3 linked regions of the Homo sapiens genome follow. The protein of the gene in region 1 interacts with the protein of each later gene in a pairwise test. Each region holds a gene or a part of one and is shown on either strand. Other genes may lie near its edges.

Region 1 (7,435 bases):
TCAGAGCCAGACTGATGCCTGCGTGTGAGGCCCAGCCTGCCTCCTCAAACTCCTCTTCCCATGAGCCACAATCCTCCCCCACACCCCCTCTGCCCCTCCCTCCAGTGCTGGGCTGTGTGGCCAGGGGACTGGACTGTGTGGCAGGATGACTCCACACAGCCTCCCCCAGGGAGTGGGGATTGGGGGAGGTAGGGTGGGAACCTGTCCCCTCCTATCCCCAGGGAAGCAGGTGGGAAGCCTGTGGCCTTGGCCCTACTCAGGAATTGCCTCTCCTAGCGAGGCGGCCTGGTGAGGTGGTACACTGTATCACTGTGGGGCCACTCCTGGGGACAGGGACAGGTGGGAGGGCAGGGTCCATGCTTCCAAGGTCCTCTGGACACGGGACCCAGGTGGCAGCTCCAAAACCTGGCTAGGATGGGCACAGTGGCTCATGCCAGTAATCCCAGCACTTTGGGAGCTGAGGTGGGTGGATCGTTTGAGCCCAGTAGTTCGAGACCAGTCTGGGCAACATGGTGAGACGCTATTTCTACAAAAAAATAAAAAATATAAATAAATAAAAATTAGTTGGGTGTGGTGGCACATGCCTATAGTCCCAGCTGAGGTGGGAGGCTCACCTGAGCCCAGGAGGTTGAGGCTGCAGTGCCACTGCACTCCAGCCTGGGCAACAGAGTGAGACCCTATCTCAAAACAAAAGAACAAAAACAAAACCTACCTAGCCCCTTCCTTGGGGCTGCCCCTTGAGGCCTTTGTCTGTTCATTCACCAATCATGCACTGGGAGTCTATTTTGTAACTCAGGTGCCCTGGAAGCAGAGCCCAGACCAAGGGAAGCGAGGGGTCCAGGCACACCCGCCAAGGGTGATCTAGGGGCAGGAATGGCAAGTGCAAAGGCCCTGAGGTGGGAATGTGTCTGCGGTGCTGGAGGAGACAGGAGGCCAGTGTGGCCAATGCTAAGCGGGGCTATGGAGAGAGAACTCAGGGAGCAGGCAGGTGGCACAGGCTCGGTCTGGGCCCTGCCCATGCAAGGATAGAAGGCATTTGCCTTGGGGGAGGTGGGATCTACAGAAAGTTCTGAGTGAAGAAGTGACATGACCTGACTCACACTGTGACTGCACCCCTCTGGTGTGATGATGGACACTGCCAGGCAAGCGCAGGAGAGGGAGGATGAGGCAGGCAGGGGCTGAGAAAGGCAGGATTCCAGGTGTGCTTTGCCAACAGAACCTTCAGGGCGGACGGGATGTGGGGCGAGCAGAGAGGCATCAGTGCGGACGACTCCAGGGTTGCTGGCCCAGGGAAGGAAAAAGAGACTTGGCAGGCGCATGAAGCCCCCTGCTGGGACGCCTGTGACACGTAGACCAGCGGCAGATCTTGCCCTCGCCATCCTAACCGTCAGCCTCACCCTCAGCAGGTCCTGCCCTACCCCCCAGACAGCAGCTGCCTCTGCCTGTTCTGGGTCCTGCCAAATCAGTGGCATGGCCGATGGCACACGGGGGATGGGTGTGGCGGGGGACCGGCCCCCTTCTCTTTGGCCTTATTCTGTGGGTGTGATTGGGGCATCACCATGGGCTTCTACCCCGGATGTGCCCTGTGGAGGTCTGCTCCCCAGCTCCCTGCCGGCCAGGGGTCCTCGCCTTACCTCTGCTCACCTGCCCTGCATACCCTCCCAGCAGGCGAGGTCATCCTCCTCACCCATCCCTGCTCTGTCAGCCTCAGCGGAACCCCTGGGTGCCCAGAGGCTCTGGCCACAGCCTCCAGCAGCTTCTTGCTCGGAGGGGCTGCTGGGAGCTGCCCTGAGGCCCCAACTAGGAGTTCCTTCCTCCCACGCCCTGGGGTTGGACTGGTAAGGGGGGAGAAGGGGAGGAATATGAGGTGTGGGATTCTCCCCACGGTGGAGGCTGCACCCTGTTCCCCCTGTTTGGCTGAGGTGCCCTGCACAGAGGTGCTTTGCATTTCTGGGTGATCATTCTCTAGGCGCCTGGTCCGTCCACACTGTCTGCAGTGACCCTGCTCCGTCAACTCTGAGCTTGGCATCTGAGGCCAGCCCTGTACACCCTGCCCTGTAGTCAGGCCCTGGCGGGGCCGCACCGACGTTTGGCTTTGCTCCACTCCCCTCCCGGTCTCTGCCCCTTTCCCCAGCTGGTCCCCTGGGAACAGGACACTTGCTGTGACCCAATGGCATCTGCTCATTTGTCCATTTGCTCCTCTCGTGAGCCACAAGGGTAGGGACTTCCTTGTATCATCTTGGGTCCCCGGGGTCTGGTGTGGGGCCAGGCATTTATTTAGCTGAACTGGACATCAGGGACATCAAGATGTACAGCCCCAAGGTCATGAGTGTTTTGTCAGGAGCCTTAGACCAGTCTGGCCCAGCCTGGAGCTCCCTCCGCATGTGGCCTCTTACAGGAGTGACGCAGCCCCATGCGGTGCTAACAGTGGCAGCACTGAACGTCGGATGGGGCTGAGCCCAGCCACTTCCACAATGGCTGTAGTTCCTATCTCTTCCTCCCTGCTAGGAAAATGTGAAATAGCCCAGAGTGGGGGGTGGGCAGAAGAGTTGCAGGCTACCCAATGCTGGGATGAGCAGAGTTGAGACCTGGGGAGCCAGGCCCAGGACACTTACAGGTGGGGATGTGAGCAGGCACCCCAGAGAGTGAGCACCCCAGCCAGCCAGCACCCATCTACTCCCTCACTGGGGTCTAAGTTCAGCCCCGAGAGCTAGGCTGTAGGTGGGTAGAGTCACAGCCCCAGCGCCGGTGTGAGGGGTGGCCCTGGGCCAGGTAGAGTGAGTATCTGCCTGCTGTCATGCCCCATCCACTTCTGCCGCCTCCCCAGTAGAGGACCCCCTCCATTTCACAGATGGGGAAAAGGGGCCCTGTTGTCTGAAGACTCTCCCATATCCTCCCCTGCCTCTGCCATCCCCTGCTTTGTCCCTTCCCTTCCAGAGGCCCTGCCTTGGTCCTGGTCACTTCCTGGTAGGCACTGGCTCTTCCTCTATGCCTGGGCTCAGGGCCTGGCCACCTAGTTTTCTGACTCCTCCCACTTACTCCCCTCCCCAGTTAACCTCTCTGATCCCAAGTGTGTCTCTCCAGCAGGGAGGAGGGCTATTGCAGCCAGGGATCCCCTTTCTGAGGCTTGGGACCCATTATTGGGCAGCTCTGGGACAGGTGGACGGTGACTTGGCCCACACTCGGTCCAGCTGCAACCCTGAGAACCCGCTTGGTTTGGCTGTGTCTCCTGGAGGCCCTCAGGTATTTCAACCTGTAGGACCCAAACCCAGTCCTTCACCTGCTGCAGGGCCAGCCCTGGACACCCCTGCCCCTGCCTGATTTGGAGCAGCCAATTCAGCCCCTGTCATTGGACTCTGGCCTCTTGTGCTCAGTACAGAGGGTCAGACCTTGGCCGCCTGCCTGGACAGGGCCAGGTCACCACCACCCACCCCCAGCTCCCTTGGGTTCCCAGCAAGATCCTGTCCTTCCTCTACTCACAGCTTCCTGGGCTCTGGGACCTGGGGTCCAGTCCCCACTCCTCATGGGGAGGAGTCCCCCCACGCCCCAAGCAGTTGACTCCCGCACTGGTGGGGGGTCCGCTCGCCCTCAAGCTCTGCAGGCCCAGCTTGGTCTCCCCAGCCTCTTCACTTTCTCCACGGCTCCCTCCACCTACCTGGCCCTGAGAGCTCCCCAGGGAAGCCATTTCCTCCCAGGAAGCCCCTCCTCTTCTCGCCCCTGCCCTTACACCAAGGCATCTGGGCCTACTCTTAGGGAGAGGGTGATGGTGGAGGAAAGGGAGCCTCAGAGGAGGCCAAGTGTAAAGCACCCGGTCTCCTGTGCCTCCCAGCCCCAAGACGACCTCTGGGCCACCGGAGTCCAGACCTGGTCCAAGAGGCGAGGTCCCCCTGGGAAGTGCCTGAAAAGTACCCTGGAGGACATTTGGAAACAAAGACAAGGTTTCCTGGTGCCCAGCAAGCCCTCCCCCACCTCCCCTGCTCCTGTCTTGGCCAGGGCCTAAGTCGCACTCACGGGGCAGGGGTGGGGCCGCCCAGGATCAGGACCACGGGGCTGGGGGGGTGGACAGCGCCCTTTCCACCTGGGTCGCTGGGCACTGGGGTGTCACTGGGAGGGACACGCAGGAGGGACAGACACGCTACCTCACTCACGGGCGAGAACTAAGCACCTACTGTGGACCCGGCGTCTAGGCCCGCGACAACGCCAGTCTTCGCCCCCCAGGGGCCTCGTCCCGGGGCCGCGGAGGCCACGTGCAGTTCCCCGCCCACCCTGAGGTACCGGCCCCGCCCCACGCCCAGCTCGGACCTCCAGGATTGCGGGACCCGCCGGGGAGGGGCGGGGCCGGGGCGGGGCCAGGAGGAGGGCGGACTGGGCGGGCGCGGGCGGGACGGAGCTGCGGCGGCGGCGGGTCCCGCGGGCGGGAGCGCCTGGCGGCCGAGTCAAGCCGCCGCCTCGACCCAGGGCCCGCGGGCCAGGAGAGCGCTCGGCGGGTAAGCCTCGGCGGCGGGTCTCGGCGGGTCTCGGGGGTCTCGCGGGGGGGCGGTCTCCGCGTCTGGAAGGGGCTCGGCGGGCCTTGGCGGTCTGGGGGCTCTCGGCGGGTCTCGGGGGTCTCGGGGGAGTCTCGGGGTCCCGACAGGTCTCGGCGGGTCTCGGGGGTCTCGGGGGAGTCTCCGGGGAGTCTCAGGGGTCCCGGCAGGTCTTGGCAGGTCTCGGGGGAGTCTCAGGGTCCCGGCAGGTATGGGCGGGTGTCGGGGGTCTCGGGTGCGCAGCAGCCTCCCCCGGGCCCCGGGGCCTCCGTGTCCTTGCCAAAGGACGCACGGGGCCTGGGCACGGCGGGCAGTGCCCGAGGGAGCGCGGCTTCGGGGCGGGGGCCGGGTGTCCCTTGCCGGGGGCTCAGGGGTGGGAGGCGGTGCGACGCGTCTGTTTCGCACCCCTCGCGCCCCTCTGGCCCCGCGGCGGGGCCCCTTTACGCGACCCTCCCCACAAGACTCAAAGGCTGCGGCGGGCACTCGCTCTCCGCCCTTCCCGGAATCCAAACTTCCCTCTGCAGCGGCCGCGCTTCACGGAGGGCAAGAAAAGCCGCCCACTGGCGCTGATTCACACTGAAGTGTGAGTGACTGATAGCCGGGCGTCTGAGACTCTCATGGGCAACAGGGAATCTCAGGGGTGGCAGAGGGACTGGAGGAGTTAGGGGGCGGGGACAGCCCCTTCCACCTGTACGCTGGCCTCCCTGCAGCCCAGCACTTTCCCGCTGCTCTGGGCCTCGGCTCCCTGGGGGTATTGAGGGCCTGAGCCCTGCTGTGGGGAGCCTTCTGCTGGTGCTCCTTTCCGTGAGCACCTCCTATCCCCTCTCTGTGCCTCAGTTTGCTCATCTGTTGACACTGGGGACAGCTGTGCCTCCTGGTCTAGTGGCCACACTTAAGTCCTTCGAATTGGCTGTGGCCAGGGGCGGGTACTCCGTGTGGGCTGCTGGGGTGGACAGCCTGCCTGGATGACATGTGTGTGGCCTTGCAGGTGACATGGGCCGGTGATGCAATGTGTAGAATTGTTTCCACAACCGCCTGAAGGCAGGGCCCACAGCCTCCTCCTTGCCGAAGCAAGCCTCTGGGTTCAGGTCAGCCCTGCACCAACTCCATGAGCCTGGACAAGCTCCTGCCCTCACTGGCTCAGGCCCTGTGGGACCAGAGGAGGGGCTGGGCTCCACCCCCTCCTGGTTCTTCCCACTCTGTCCACTGTCTCCTCTACGTAGACACCGTCGAAGGGCCCTCTTGGAGCCCAACCTCAGGGCCCCACTCCAGGCACTCCACTCCTGGCAGGACAGGAGGCCTGGGACGAGGGCTGCAAGGGAGTGAGGATTCTGTCTATCCCCTCTCCCTGCCACCCGCCAGGCTCCCTTTGCCTGGCTCTGTGCCCTGCGTTAGGCACACCCTGGAGGGGGCAGGCAGAAGGAAGACAGATAGGCAGCCGTGTCTAGGAACTGCCAGCCAGGGCCATCTGGTGAGAGGGGTGCTGACAGGGGACCTGGCCTTTCAGGGAGTCCCCAGGCCTCCAGGATCATGGGGGAGCCCACCAAGGAGGCTGGCCTGAAGAGGCAGACAGAGGGAGGACAGGCTCTGGGCCTGCCTTGGCCCTTTCTGCCCACATGGACAGAGGAAGCAGGGTGCTGAGTCAGCTGGAGCTCCCCACCCCCCAGGGATGCACGCACACAAGCAGGCCCACAGACGGGAAGTCCAGGGGCCCAGAGAGACGAGATGGCCAGCCTTGGTTCCTGAGGGGCAGGGAGGAAGGGCGCAAACTCAGCCAGGATCTTGGGTGTGAACTCAGATGCCACCAGTTTCCAGCTGTGTGATCATGGCCAGGAGGCTTCCCCCTGCCACCCCTCCGTTTTCTCATCCATGACCTGAGGGCTGTGAAGCACTTTGTACCTGGTGGGTGGCTATGAGTGTCCGTAGGGGGGATGGTGGTGGTGGTGACATGTGCTTGGTATTCAGTGACAGTGGGTCGCTGAGGGTGCTCTCCCTGGTCCTCAGGGCCGCTGTATGTCCTGTTTTGGGTGGGGGCAGGGACTGGCCTGGAGAGGCCTGGGTAAAGGCCAAGGCTCCCAGGTTCCTGCCCACATTGGACTAAGGCCTGAGTCCATCAGGAGTGGCCAGTGTTGGGCAGCCCCTGGGTCTTCCTGCGTTCTGTCCTCAAAAGCTCCCTTGTGGGGACACCCCAGGTCAGTGACTATGTGTGGCAGGCTCTGCCCTCCTCACTCTCTGTCCTCTCTTGACCTCATGATCTGCCCACCTCCCAAAGTGCTGGGATTACAGGCGTGAGCCCCCACGCCTGGCAGAGTATATAGTTCTTTAATAACCGGGTGGCTTGGCCATCACTGTGCAGCCTGGGTGGGTGAGGAGAAGGGCAGGCTGGCGGGGAAAAGACGGGGAATTTGCCACAAGGTGAGAGCTGTCCTACCCCAGACGCAGTGGAGCGGCTCCCACCCCTCGGGCCAATGAATACAGGGTGGGCCGTCAGGAGGAGGGATCTGAGCCGGGCGGGCAGCCATGCAGGTACAGACAGACTAAGCCAAAGGCGGGCGGTAGGGAGGGTGGGAGACCAGTTTGACGGGAGTGGCCTTTGCATGCCAGGTGTGGTGAGGGTATGGAGGGGCCTGGGAGGCAAGGAGAAGGGGCCGTGCAGACCCTGGAATCCTTCCTCCAGGATAGGCGGCTCCTCCCCAGAAGGCCTCTGCATTCTTCTGGTGGCCCTGTCTGGACACCGAGGGGCTGGAGACAGTCCCACGTGTGGGCTGCCTAAGTCCCAGAGGGGGTGGTAGGGAGCATTTCAGGCTCACTGGCTGGCCCCCTTCCCTGGGGCACTGGACCCTCCTCACCACCCCTTGGCCTGTGCACGGGAGGGTAGACAGGATGGTGCCAAGAGCAAGGGACTGGCCCTC
Region 2 (7,028 bases), on another chromosome or scaffold:
GCTCACTGCAACCTCCACCTCCTGGGTTCAAGCGATTCTCCTGCCTCAGCCTCTTGAGTAGCTGGGATTACAGGCGCCTGGCTGATTTTTGTATTTTTAGTAGAGACAAGGTTTTACCGCGTTGGGCACGCTCATCTCGAACTCCCAACCTCAGGTGATCCTCCCACCTCGGCCTCGCAAAGTGCTGGGATTATAGGCGTGAGCCACCGCACCCATCCTGGGTCCATTTTATAGAAGAGAAAACTACAGCACAGAGAGGTTAAGTGTCCTCTTCAAGGACACACAGCAGTGCAGAGAGGACCTTGGGGAGGACCCACGAAGCTGTCCTTCCCCAGGCTGGTCTGTATCAGAGATCGCCGGGGTTGCTGCTGAGGTCAGATGAGGATGGGTTGGGGAGAAGATGGGTCATGTCTACAATTTCCCCTTTGGGGGCCAGTGCAGGCTTCAGCCTGCCAGGCCACTCAGGCTGAACTAAGACCCCAGGCCACTTCCCCTCACTGGGGTCAGCTGTGTCTGGCTAGGCCCATCAGCCCTCCTGGCTCTCCCGGCTCTGACGACTTGGTTCCTCTTCCTGCCCTTCCCCTCTTTCCTCATCTGGCAGAGTGGCCCTCTTCTCTGACCATTCTCTCCCTCTCTATCCTGCCCCAGGCACTAGAGGCCCTCAGACACTCCATGCTCCAGCCACCTGTAAAATCACAGGCTGGGCCGGGCACGGTGGCTCACACCTGTGATCCCAGCACTTTGGGAGGCCGAGGTGGGTGGATCACGAGGTCAGGAGATCGAGACTATCCTGGCTAACACGGTGAAACCCCGTCTCTACTAAAACTACAAAAAATTAGCCAGGTGCGGTGGCGGGCGCCCGTAGTCCCAGCTCCTCGGGAGGCTGAGGCAGGAGAATGGCGTGAACCTGGGAGGCGGAGCTTGCAGTGAGCTGAGATGGTGCCACTGCAGTCCGGCCTGGGTGAAAGAGTGAGACTCCGTCTCAAAAAAAAAAAAAAAAAAAAAAATTAATCACAGGCTGTTTGCATCGAAGGGAGAGAGGGTTTTGCTCAAGTGAATATCGTGTGGGGAGGATAGTCGAGAATTTTGGCATGTGATGGATTGGGGTCAAAGCCTGGCTTGACAGTTGACTGACTGTGTGACTCTGGGGAGGTCACTTCTCTTCTCCAAGCCTCAGTTTCTCCTCTTTGCAAGTGGATTTGGCCGCGCATGGTGGCTCACGCCTGTAATCCCAGCACTTTTGGAGGCGAGGCAGGCAGATCACTTGAGGTCAGGAGTTCAAGACCAGCCTGGCCAACATGGTGAAACCTCATCTCTACTAAAAATACAAAAATTAGCCCGGCGTGGTGGCGGGTGTCTGTAGTCTTAGCTATCCGGGAGGCTGAGGCAGGGGAATTGCTTGAACCTAGGAGGTGGAGGTTGCAGTGAGCCAAGATTACGTCATTGCACTCCAGCCTGGGCAACAGAGCGAGACTCCATCTCAACAACAACAAATAACCAAATGGATTCCATAATGACCCTTGTGTGGGGTCTCTGAAACAAGTACAGGAGCGAACAAAGAGAAAAAATGCGCCGAGATGCCTCAGGAAATGTCATCTGTGACCTTGAGAGGATTTAAGGCATCAGTGTTGGACAGAAAGCCTGGTCAATACATACTTGTTGAATGAATGAATGAATGAATGAAGTCCTATTGGGATGAGACTGCCCCCTGCCCTGTCTCCCAGATATCTCTCTCATTCTGTGGCCTCCAAGTCTCCATGGGTCAAGTCAAAACTGTTTGTTTGTAAGTCTCTTCCTTGGGGGTGGGGATGCAACGAAGAGCTTGTGGTCACAGTTGACCACAAGCTGAATATGACTCAACCTGCTGGAGCTCTTGTGAAAGGCAGTCAGGGGCTTGAGGTGGGTGGGGTAGGAAGGACGGGTAGCTTCTTCCTTCAGCTCTTCAGAGAGGTCTCTCTACCCCAAGGCTGAAGGCAGAACTAGGGCAGGCGGGGACAACCTTCCTGGTATCACACCAGGGAGGGGCTGTTTGTGGTGAAGGTGATGGTGCCTATGGGGCTGGGGGATGTGTGCCATGGAGGGAACACACTTCCTGGGCCCCTACTGTGCATGGAGGTAGGTGGAGACCAGGCTTAGGTGGACCAGGCCCAGAACCTGCCCTTGGGGGGCTCGGTGTTCCCCAAGTGGTGTCTCAGTTGCCCAGAGGAGACCATGGCTGGAAAGTACTGTGGAGAGGTGAGAGGGCTTCCTGTAGAAGGCACGTCTTGCAACATGAACTTTCCAGGCAGCATCAGTGGTGGCTGCAAGAGACATCAGCCAGAGAGGCCTTGGGTGTGTGGTGGACACCAGGATTCTAGTCTGTTTGGAATGGAGGGTCATGGTCCTGGAGGGATAGACAGCCCAGGCCATGTGGGGTCAGCACATAGTCCTGCTGGCCTCTCATTGCTTAGGAGGACAGGAGGCTGTGGTCAAGGTGCCTGTTATTTTTTTTGGACAGAGTCTTGTTCTGTTGCCCAGGTTGGAAGGCAGTGGTTTGATATCACTGCAGCCTTGACCTCCCAGGCTCAAGCGAATCCTCCTGCCTCAGCCTCCTGAGTAGCTGGGACCACAGGTGCATACTACCACGCCTGGCTAATACATTTTTTTTTTTTTGAGATGGAGTCTTGCTCTGTTGTTCAGGCTGGAGTGCAGCGGCATGATCTAGGCTTACTGCAACCTCTGCCTCCCAGGTTCAAGTGATTCTCCTGCCTCAGCCTCCCAAGTAGCTGGGATTACAGGCGTGCACAACGCCTGGCTAATTTTTGTATTTTTAGTAGAGACCAGGTTTCATCATGTTGGCCAGGCTGGTCTCGAACTCCTGACCTCAGGCAATCCACTCATCTCGGCCTCCCAAAGTGCTGGGATTATAGGCGTGAGCCACTGCACCCAGCCACATTTTTTTTTTTATTTGAGATGGAGTCTCGCTCTTGTTGCTCAGTCTGTGAGTGCAGTGGCATGACCTTGGCTCAACCTCTGCCTCCCAGGTTCAAGCAATTCTCCTGCCTTAGCCTCCTGAGTAGCTGGGATTACAGGTGCACGCCACCACACCTGGCTAATTTTTGTGTTTTTAGTAGAGACAGGGTTTCACCACGTTGGCCAGGCTGGTCTTGAACTCCTGACCCCAAGTGATCTGCCCGCCTTGACCTCCCAAAGTGCTGGAATGACGGGCACTGGGATGAGCCACCGCACCCAACCACATTTTTTTTTTTTTAAATAGAGACAAAGTCTAACTATGTTGCTTAGGCTGGTCTCAAACTCCTGGACTGCTGATCCTCTTGCCTTGGCCTCCCAAAGCGCTGGAATTACAGGTGCAAGCCGCTGTGCCCGGCCAAGATGGCTGTTAATAGTGTGGCCTTGGGAGTCACTGAGTCAAAATCCTCTTTCATTTTAGATTGGGCAGCTCACCTAACCTCTCTGCCTCAGTTTCCTCATTCGGAAAATGGGAACATCGAGGGGTGCAAATCTCACAGGCTGCTCTGCAGATTCAACGAAGCAAAGGTTGTCCAGTGTAAATGCTAGCGTTCCTCACTGTCCCCATCAATGGTGGCCATGAGCTGGCCAGGAGGAAGGGCTGGAGGAGGGAGCTTTTGCAACTCACCCCATGGGCTCCAGGCTGTCTGCTTTTTCTGGGCGTGATGAGCAAGAGCTCTAGATTGAAGACAGCAAACAAACAGCCACTTCCTTCCTCACCCAGGTCCTGCGAGCTGTGGTTGCCGGGAGGAGAGCTAAGCCTCCGTAGCTGCTTCTGGAGCCAGCTCTCAGCTCCCAGACCCTGCCCTGGTGCCTGAGGGTGGCCCTGGAGCCTTGCCCCCAGCTCAGTGGGGCTCTGGGGCCACACCCTGCGTCCATGCACTGTGCAAACAACATTCTCACCTCCAAAGGCTCCATCCCTCAGGGGAGCAGGGGGACTGGACTCTGTTTCTTTTCTTTTCTCTCTCTCTCTCTTTTTTTTTTTTAGATGGAATCTCACTCTGTTGCCCAGGCTGGAGTGCAGTGGCATGATCTCGGCTCACTGCAACCTCCACCTCCTGGGTTCAAGCGATTCTCCTGCCTCAGCCTCCCGAGTAGCTGGGACTACAGGCGCCCGCCACCGCGCCCGGCTAATTTTTTTTTTGTATTTTTGTATTTTTATTGTTTTGAGACGGAGTCTTGCTCTCTCACCCAGGCTGGAGTGCAGTGGCGCCATCTCGGCTCACTGCAAGCTCTGCCTCCCGAGTTCACGCCATTCTTCTGCCTCAGCCTCCCAAGTAGCTGGGACTACAGGCACCCGCCACCACGCCTGGGTAATTTTTTGTATTTTTAGTAGAGACGGGGTTTCACCATGTTAGCCAGGATGGTCTCGATCTCCTGACCTCATGATCTGCCCGCCTCGGCCTCCCAAAGTGCTGGGATTATAGGTGTAAGCCACCGCGCCCAGCCCCTGTATTTTTAGAGACGGGGTTTCACTGTGTTAGCCAGGATGGTCTCGATCTCCTGACTTCGTGATCCGCACGCCTCGGCCTCCTAAAGTATTGGGATTACAGGCGTAAGCCACCGCGCCTGGCCTTTATACGTGGGGACCCTTGTCTTTCTGGAGCTGGGCTCTTTGTCTCGTCGCTGGAGATTGCTGACAGTCGGTGGCTACCGTCTCAAACATCTCCACGCAGAAGCTGGAGCTGGGGAACCCTGGTCTTGTCCCTCCTGCTTTTTGGGGAAGATCCTCTGGGATGTGGTCCCCAACCCCCAAGACAGAAACCTGCCTGTCTCTGATTCATTGTTACGTTCACTCTTTGCATCCAATCAATTATGGGCATTTTTTTTTCCCCTCTGAGACAGAGTCTCGCTCTGTTGCCCAAGCTGGAGTGTAGTGGTGCGATCTCAGCTCACTGCAACCTCTGCCTCTCGGGTTCAAGCGATTCTGCTGCCTCAGCCTCCTGAGTAGCTGGGATTACAGGCACATGCCACCCCGCTTGGCTAATTTTTGTATTTTTAGTAGAGATGGGGTTTCACCATGGTGGCCAGACTGGTCTCGAACACCTGACCTCAAGTGATCCACCTGCCTCGGCCTCCTAAAGTGCTGGGATTACAGGTGTGAGCCACTGTGCCCGTGCCCAGTTAGTGGTCTTAACTGATTCTTTCTCCTAAATTCCTTTTGACTCCCAGCCTTTCCTGTCCATCCTCATGGCCACTGATTCTGGACCCAGCAGCCACTTCACTGGTCTCCCTGCTTTGTGGCTGTATCTTATTTATTTGTTTAGAAACAGAGTCTGTCTCTGTTGCTCAGGCTGGAGTGCAGTGGGGCCATCACAGCTCACTGCAGCCTGGAACTCCTGGGCTCAAGTGATCTTCCCACCTCAGCTTCCCAATTAGCTGGTACTACAGGTCCATGCCACCATGCCTGGCTAACTTTTAAATGCTTTGTAGAGATGGGGTATTGCCATGTCTCCCAGGCTGGTCTCGAACATCTGGCCTCAAGTGATCCTCCCACCTCCGTCTTCCAAACTGTTGGGATTACAGGCATGAGCCATTGTTCCTGGCCCTGTGACTGTACCTTAGAAACAATCACTATTGGCCAGGTGTGGTGGCTCACGCCTATAATCCCAGCACTTTGGGAGGCTGAGGCGGGCAGATCACGAGGTCAGGAGATCGAGACCATCCTTGCTAACACGGTGAAACCCCATCTCTACTAAAAAAATAGAAAAAAATTAGCCAGGCATGGTGGCGGGCGCCTGTAGTCCCAGCTACTCGGGAGGCTGAGGCAGGAGAATGGCATGAACCTAGGAGGTGGGGCTTGCAGTGAGCCAAGATCATGCCACTGCACTCCATCCTGGGTGACAGAGCGAGACTCTGTCTCAAAAAAAAAAGAAGAGACAATCACTATTATCCTCACATGACCACCATCACCAACCAAAGGCAACCAGTGAACGTCTTCACTCTCTCTCCTACCCTTCTCAAAGACAAACAGAAACTGCTGATAACTCCAATACCATCATGACTAGCCAATGTCAGACAGGTCCCATGAGCAATTCCAGCATCAGCCTTCCTTACATTCTCCCACGATCACCACCACCACCACCACCACGCTATAATAACCAACCACCATCTAGTCATCGGCCAGGCACAGTGGCTCACACCTGTAATCTCACACTTTGGGAGGCCAAAGCGGGTGGATCACTTGAGGTTAGGAGTTGGAGACCAGCCTGGCCAACATGGCGAAACCCCGTCTCCACTAAAAGCACAAAAATTAGCTGGGTGTGGTGGCAGGTGCTTGTAATCTCAGCTACTTGGGAGGCTGAGGCACGAGAATTGCTTGAAGCCAGGAGGTGGAGGTTGCAGTGAGCCGAGATTGCACCACTGCACTCCAGCCGGGGTGACAGAGCGAGACTCTGTCTCAGAAACAAAACAAAACAAAAAAACAATACTAGCCATCAACAACCACACATAACCAACTACCATTAGCAACCACAGAAAGCAGCAGTCACCAGTCCTATCCTGTTCAAAACCCAACATTGAACCAGCACCACCATTGCTGATCATCATCTTACCAGAAACCAACAATAAACTACCAGCAGCAAATGAACGCTACTACCAACACCTTTCCTCTCCAAATAACAGCAACCACCGATGGTCATCATTCCACTGGTCACCAAGCATCTCCAGAATTTCCAGCTGAAAACAATCCACCACCAACGAACAACATTAAACACCAACCGCCACCACCACCAGCCCACCTGCAAGAGCCATTATCACCACGAACCTGCAACAAGAAACAGCCACAACCACCACCACAACCAATGACACCAACAACCCAGCAATGACCACTCGCAGCAACTCCTCCCCAATTACCACAATCGTCACCTCCGTCCATCCTCATTGCTGAATCCAGAAATGAATGGACATCCCAGCTAATGGCAGCTACCATGGATCAAGTGCATGTTATGTGCTCTGTAAAGCAATGGTCCCCAACATTTTTGGCACCAGAGACCGGTTTAATGGAAGACAATTTTTCC
Region 3 (7,028 bases), on another chromosome or scaffold:
GCTGTAGGAGACCAGATGGGGTAGGCATGAAGTAGGCAGAGGAGGAACGGAGGTTTCAGAGCTCACTAGTTTAATTCTTTGTGTTTTCTTGTTTGTTTTTTGAGACAGAGTCTCACTCTGTCACCCAGGCTGGAGTACGGTGGTGCAATCTCAGCTCACTGCAACCTCTGCCTCCCAGGTTCAAGCGATTCTCCTACCTCAGCCTCCCAAGTAGTCCCTGCAGTTGGGACTACAGGTGCATGCCACCACACCTGGCTAATTTTTGTATTTTTTTGGTAGAGATGGGGTTTCACCATGTTGGCCAAGCTAGTCTTGAGCTCCTGACCTAAAGAGATCCACCCGCCTCGGCCTCCTAAAATGCTAGGATTACAGGCATAAGCCACCACGCCTGGCCTCACCAGTTTAATTCTTACATGGGGTCAGGATGGGATAAATATAGAGGGGATGTGAATAAAGACCCAGACTGAAGAAGGCAGTGGACACAGGGGACATGGAGGGCATGTGTCAGTTGGGTGGCCCTTCTCAATGTGGCACATTTCTTGCCGTCATGTATTACTGCGTGCTGTCGTTTGCAGAATGACATCTCTGAAAAGGAGCAACGATGGGGAGCCAAGACCATCGAGGGGTCTGGACGCACAGAACACATCAAGTAGGTGCCGAAAGGACTGGAGAAAAGGAAGGGGGTTATGGGAAGAGCCCAAAGAAAACTCGGAGACTTGGGGGAAGGTGAGGGAGGAAAAGGATAGGGTAGTTCATGTCTATGTATTATTGTGTTTGTTTTTTTTCTAGAGTCTGTTCCTGTGTGTACCTGTGTGTCATTGCATATTTCCATTTTATGTCTCTCCTCTTACCCTCCTCAACCCTATTATCTATCTTTTATACCTAACAACTCTGCTATTTCCCCAAGTGGGTCTATTGGATTAACTGCCTCCCTTCCTTTAGTAAGGCATGAGAGATTCATAGAGGAAGTGGACCAAATACTAAGGTCCTCTCTATCTATCTACCTGGCAATCATCTATCTCCTATCTATCTCTTCAGATAAATGTAAATATGTATTTAGAATTCAGGGTGACTTCCTTCAGATGAACTAAGAACAATTCAGTAAAATGTCAAGGTGAAGAACTCAGAATAAATGCTATAAAAAGAGGCCACTTCAGCTCCCATAACTGGCCCAAATAACTTTTAAAATACAGATTTGTACTTAGCTATTTGACAGAAGTTGGAAGCCATGAATGGTAATATGAAGAAATGTAACACTTGGAAAACCTGTTGATAAAAACTATTTTGGCAACGATGTTCAGGGATCTTTAAGATTATAGCCCCATATGCATTTTACCAGAAACAAACAAACAAACAAAACCCTCCGATACCAGAAGATAAAAGGAACTTACAGACATATCCAGGGGTTTCTGTGGGATATGTCATACATTCAGGCTGAGAGATCCCCTTCTCTCTTCCACGGATGATTCAGGATCATCTAACCAGGACCATCTGCTTTGGATAGTATCAGAATGTCAAACATTAGTAGCAAGGTAGACACAATAAATAGTGTAACAAGCAAAAATTCAACAACTACACACAAAATGGCAAGATTAATACAGTTTTAAGCTCCATTTTTAACTCCCCCTACCGCACCCTAAAAGCAGTGTTTTTACCTCTAGATTTTAAAAAGTGTCAGTGGATGACCACATTGCACAAGCAACATACTGTGAAAGCCTGGCACAAGTTTCTACAACTGGATGACAATACCACATTGTTTAATCAGAAATAAATGGTTTCGGCCGGGCGTGGTGGCTCACGCTTGTAATCCCAAAACTTTGGAAGGCCGAGCGAGGAAGATCACTTGAGGTCAGGAGTTCAAGACCAGCATGGGCAACATGATGAAACCCTGTGTCTACTAAAAATACAAAAATTAGATGGGCGTGGTGGCGGGCACCTGTAATCCCAGCTACTCAGGAGGCCGAAGCACGAGAGTCTCTTGAACCCAGGAGGCACAGGTTGCAGTGAGCTGAGATCGCACCACTGCACTCCAGCCAGGGTGATAGAGCGAGACTCAGTCTCAATAAATAAATAAATAAATAAATAAATAAATAAATAAATAAATGGTTTCAATTAAGTAGCTATAATGAATATTATTCTTAAACCATGCCATTCTGGAAAAAGATTGAAACAATGGAACAGGGTCATTCAGGAAGCTTCTGTGATACCCCTCTATAGACTCATAGATCAAAAAAAAAAAAAAAAAAACCACAAGACCCTTTTCCTTTTCTGAATAAAGGCCACTCAACGCTGGTATTCTGGGAATTGTCCAGATGAGGATGCACACTTCATGCCTTTGGTGGTATTGTAGCCAATGAGGTTTATCCGAGGTGTGATTATTGCTAATTGAAAACTTCCCAACACTCCGCCATGACGACTTGCAATATAGTAGGCATTGGCAAAAAAAAAAAAAAAAAAAAAAAAAAGAGCAAGCAACCCTCATAAAAAAATGAAATAACTTAAAAAAAAATAGCCACCCTGAAGATGTATAGTTACAGGTCAATGGGATAGCCAATGTCTAATGCAGTACTTAGCACTTCTGAGCAGCTCAGTGATGTTAGTTTTGTTTCCTGTTAATATAGGTTAGTTTAATCAGATTTCCTTTCTAAAATCTAACAAACATGTAAACAGACAACAGCCCTTTTTTCTCCTAAGTGGTGTCTACCTGGACTGTTGGATTGCACAACTCCTATACACAGATCACTCTGACGGGTGCTGCCTGGAGTGGTACAACATGGTGACCCTGCACATTTCCTTGTTAACCTAACTGAATCTATCAGATAGAATAAACGATGGAGATATTGACAAAAAAATCTCGCTCATCTCCCATTTACCCAGGTTATCAAGGAGTGAAAGCCTGGTATCTGCTGGTAACAGGCCAGGTGGCTTTAGACAAGTCCCTTTTCCTCTCTGATTCTCATTTTGCCCATCTGGATCAAAAAGACCTCTAGAGGACTTTCCAGTAGTAAGTCTCCACTATTTGGGGATTCCCTCTCGTTAGTGTGGGCTAAGTCAGTCTTTAACATCTGATGGGAATCACCATGGTCCTTGGAAAGGAGAGGGAAATTGGAGAGGAGAACAGTAGCTGTAGATGCTAACACTGACAGATCCCAAAATGAAAAAACAAAAAACAAACAAACAAAACAAAACAGTAGCTGTAGAGCTGAGACGACTAAAAGCAGGAAAAGGAAGTGGTTGCAGTTCTTACTAATCTTACTACCTTCCCCACACCGTGATGTCTCTTTTTAGGTCTGTCTTGAATAAATTTAGTTTGGATAGTAATTTGGTAATTCAGTGAATAATTCAAATGGTCCTATGCATCCCTTATCCATTCTGTAAAGGAACTGCCTGGTTTTCAAGAACTATCACCCTTCTCTCCACCTTCTTTTCTCCACTCTTGCCCATTCATTCTCAAGACTCAAGGGTGTCTTTTCCCTTGACCTGTTTGTTTATTTTCAAATCTGTCACAGACTGATACTTTTGTAAAATAAAATACAATTAAGTTTCTGGAAAAATAAATGGTTAAAAATAACATAGACAATACAAACACAGTTTTTATTTTTAAATTCAACAGATATAAAATCACGATGTTGTCAGGCATGCTAGTCTGTGCCTATAGACCCAACTACTCAGGAGGCTGAGGCAGGAGGATCACTTGAGTCCAGTAGTTCTGGGCTATAGTGCTCTATGCTGATTGGGTCTCCACGCTGAATTCTGAATCAATATAGTGACCTCCCACCTCCCAGGAGCAGGGGACCATAGGTTGCCTAAGAAGGGGTGAACTTGCCCAGGTCAGAAATGGAGCAGGTCAAAACTCCAGTGCTGATCAGTAGTGGGATTGTGTCTGTGAGTAGCCACTGTACTCCAGCCTGGGCAACAGTGAGACCCCATTTCTAAAAAAGAAAAAGAAAAAGAATAAAATCACTATGTCAAATTGCTATAAAAGTTTCTAAACACATATTCTCAATTTTTATTCTTATTTCCCTGTGAAACAGAAACAGTTCAGCTTGTGGACCACACACTGAGTGGCACTGCTCTGGAATAATCTTTCAGCACTTCCTGGAACCAGTCTGGCCTTTAGATTAAATCTTTACTGAGCTATAACCATAGGATGTCTGCCTCAGTGGCCCTGTCCTCTTCTCGTGCCCTGACATTTTATAGCAAGTGGAAATAAAGAATGGTGTAATGCCAAGAGTATAGAAATAGAATTCTGGAGCTCTAGGGACTGATTCCAGCTCTGCTGTAAAAAGGCTTATGATGCTGAGGAGAGTAATAATATTTTACCATCCTATCTTGATTTCCAGCGCTGACTGGAGATTATAGTACCATCCCTGTTTACCTCACAGGGGTACTGGGAAGAGCCATGGCTATAACTTAAGAATAATGACTAACATTTATTAAGCTATTATATGTCTTGCAAAACACAGAGTACTTTTTAAAAACAATCCTATATCATAGATGACGTTGGCATCCTGATTTCACAGAAAAGTGAATGGATATATTAATGTTTAGCAATTTGTCCGAGGATACAGAGATACAGGTTGAGCATCCCTAATCCAAAAATTCAAAATCTAAAATGTTCCAAAATCTGAAATTTTTGAAAGCCCACATGATACCACAAGTAGAAAATTCCACACCTGACTACATGTGATGGGTCTCAGTCAAAATACAGGTGCACAACAGTTTTTTCAGCGTCCCCAAGGGAAAAATAAAGTTACCTTCATTTATTTAGTTCTTCTTTAATACCTTCCTTAATATAGTGTATATGACACATAAATGAATTTCCTGTTTACACATGGGTCTCGTCCCCAAGATATCTCATTATGTATATGCAAATATTCCAAAACCTGAAAAAATCCTGAATCCAAAACACTTCTGGTCCCAAGCGTTTGGGATGAGGGATAGTCAACCTGTAGTAATTTGAATTCGGCTCAGTCTGACTCCATGGGCTGAAATCTTAACCAATATATTGTTTTTGTCTAATAAACATAATATCGTCATGTCCGTAATTCTTTTGTTGAAATGAAATGCAAATTCCCATGAACTAAGCTATTGCCAATTCCCTAAGGCTGCTTGCTATTCTGTTTACAGTGACAAAGTACTTGATAAGTTGGCCTTAATAATACTACAATCACTTCATAAACAAACCTCTTTATGAGTGCCCAAAGTCTCTTTCATTTAAGGTTTTCTTCACTTTATTATTTTTCAAAAATTAACTTTGTTTTTTTTGAGACGGAGTTTCGCTCTGTCATCCAGGCTGGAGTGCAGTGGTACGATCTCGGCTCACTGAAACCTCCGCCTCTGCCTCCCAGCTTCAAGTGATTCTCCTACCTCAGCTTCCCGAGTAGCTGGGATTACAGGCATGTGCCACCTTGCCCAGCTAATTTGTGTATTTTTAGTAGAGACGGGGTTTAACCATGTTGGCCAGACTGGTCTTGAACTCCTGACCTCAAGTGATCCGCCTGCCTCGGCCTCCTACAGTGCTGGGATTACAGGTGTAAGCCACCATTGCCCAGGCAAAAATTAAATTTATTGATACCTAATCATTATAAGCAAATAGTTCAATGAGTTTTGACTATATATATATAATATAACCACCAATGCAATCAAGATATAGAATATATCTATTACCATGAAAATTTCCCTGCACCTCTTTGCAGTCAATACACCCCATACTGATCTTTTTGTCACTATAGATTAGTTTTGTCTGGCATAGAATTTCATGCAAACAGAATAATATAGAATGTATTGTTTTGTGTTGTCTTCTTTCAGCATAATGTTTTCCAGATTTATCCATGGTGTTGTGTATATAAGTCTTTTGTTCTTTTATATTGTCATGTAGTGTCCCATTGTATGGATATGTCACAGTTTTATTATTCATTATCCTGTCAATAGCCATTTGGATTATTGACAATTTGGATCTATTACAAATGAAACTGTCATGGGCATTTGGGTACAAATCTTTTTGTTGACATATCCTTATTTCTCTTGGAAAATTGCCAGGAGTAGAATTGCTGAGTCATATAATAAGTGTATGTTAAACATTTTGAGAGACTCTCAAACTCTTTTCCAAAGGGAATTTACCCTCTTTCATTCCTACCAGTAATGTGTGGGTTTCAGATGCTCCACATTTTTGTCAACATTTGTTATTGTTAGTATTTTTAAATTTAGCTGGGTGCAGTGGCTCATGCCTGTAATCCCAGCACTTTAGGAGGCCAAGGCAGGAGGATGACTTGAGCCCAGGAGTTCAAGACCATCTGGACAATGTGGAGAGATTCAGAGTCTACAAAAAAATTAAAAATTGGCTGGCTGTGGTCTGAGCTATTCAGGAGGCTGAGGCAGGAGAAGCACTTGAGCCCAGGGGGTTGAGGCTGCAGTGAGCCATGTTTGCCCCACTGCACTCCAGCCTGGGTGACAGACTGAGATCCTCTCTAAAAGACAAACAAAACAAAACAACAACAACAACAACAAAACCAACTTAACCACTCTTTTAAGTTAATTTGAATTTCTCTGATGACCAGTTTTATTGAGTATATTTTCATTTGCCATTCATATATCTTCATATATCTTCTTTATGAAGTATCTGTTCACATCTTTTTCTCACTTTTAAAGTGAGTTGTTTGTCTTTTTATTAAGTTGCTGAAAGTTCTTTATATATTCTGGATGTAAGTCTTTTGTGAAATATGTGTTTTACAAGTGTATTCTCCCAGAACATAACTTGCTTTTTCACTTTATTGATTGATTGATTGATTATTTATTGATTGATTGCTCTGTTGCCCAGGCTGGAGTGCAGTGACATGATCTCAGCTCACTGCAACCTCTGCCTCCTGGGTTCAAGCGATTCTGCTGCTTCAGCCTCCTGAGTAGCTGGGACTCAGGCGCCCACCACCAAGCCCAGCTAATTTTTGTATTTTTGGTAGAGACGGGGTTTCACCATAGTGGCTAGGCTGGTCTTGAGCTCCTGACCTTGTGATCCACCCGCCTTGACC

What was found. Proteins that work in one complex are often made in the same cells at the same time.
Region 2: the proteins of SH3BP2 (region 1) and MYO1F interact in binary tests that used the Homo sapiens proteins (3 or more experiments, as listed by UniProt).
Region 3: the proteins of SH3BP2 (region 1) and HCLS1 interact in binary tests that used the Homo sapiens proteins (3 or more experiments, as listed by UniProt).

What each region holds. Positions count from the first base shown.
Region 1 is NC_000004.12:2,788,652-2,796,086, forward strand, and holds the start of SH3BP2 (SH3 domain-binding protein 2), read left to right. Parts: upstream 1-4,433; 5' UTR 4,434-4,487; intron 4,488-7,435. UniProt on the Homo sapiens protein: Binds differentially to the SH3 domains of certain proteins of signal transduction pathways. Binds to phosphatidylinositols; linking the hemopoietic tyrosine kinase fes to the cytoplasmic membrane in a phosphorylation dependent mechanism.
Region 2 is NC_000019.10:8,567,439-8,574,466, forward strand, and holds part of MYO1F (unconventional myosin-If), read right to left. Parts: intron 1-7,028. UniProt on the Homo sapiens protein: Myosins are actin-based motor molecules with ATPase activity. Unconventional myosins serve in intracellular movements. Their highly divergent tails are presumed to bind to membranous compartments, which would be moved relative to actin filaments.
Region 3 is NC_000003.12:121,650,900-121,657,927, reverse strand, and holds part of HCLS1 (hematopoietic lineage cell-specific protein), read left to right. Parts: intron 1-575; coding exon 576-649; intron 650-7,028. UniProt on the Homo sapiens protein: Substrate of the antigen receptor-coupled tyrosine kinase. Plays a role in antigen receptor signaling for both clonal expansion and deletion in lymphoid cells. May also be involved in the regulation of gene expression.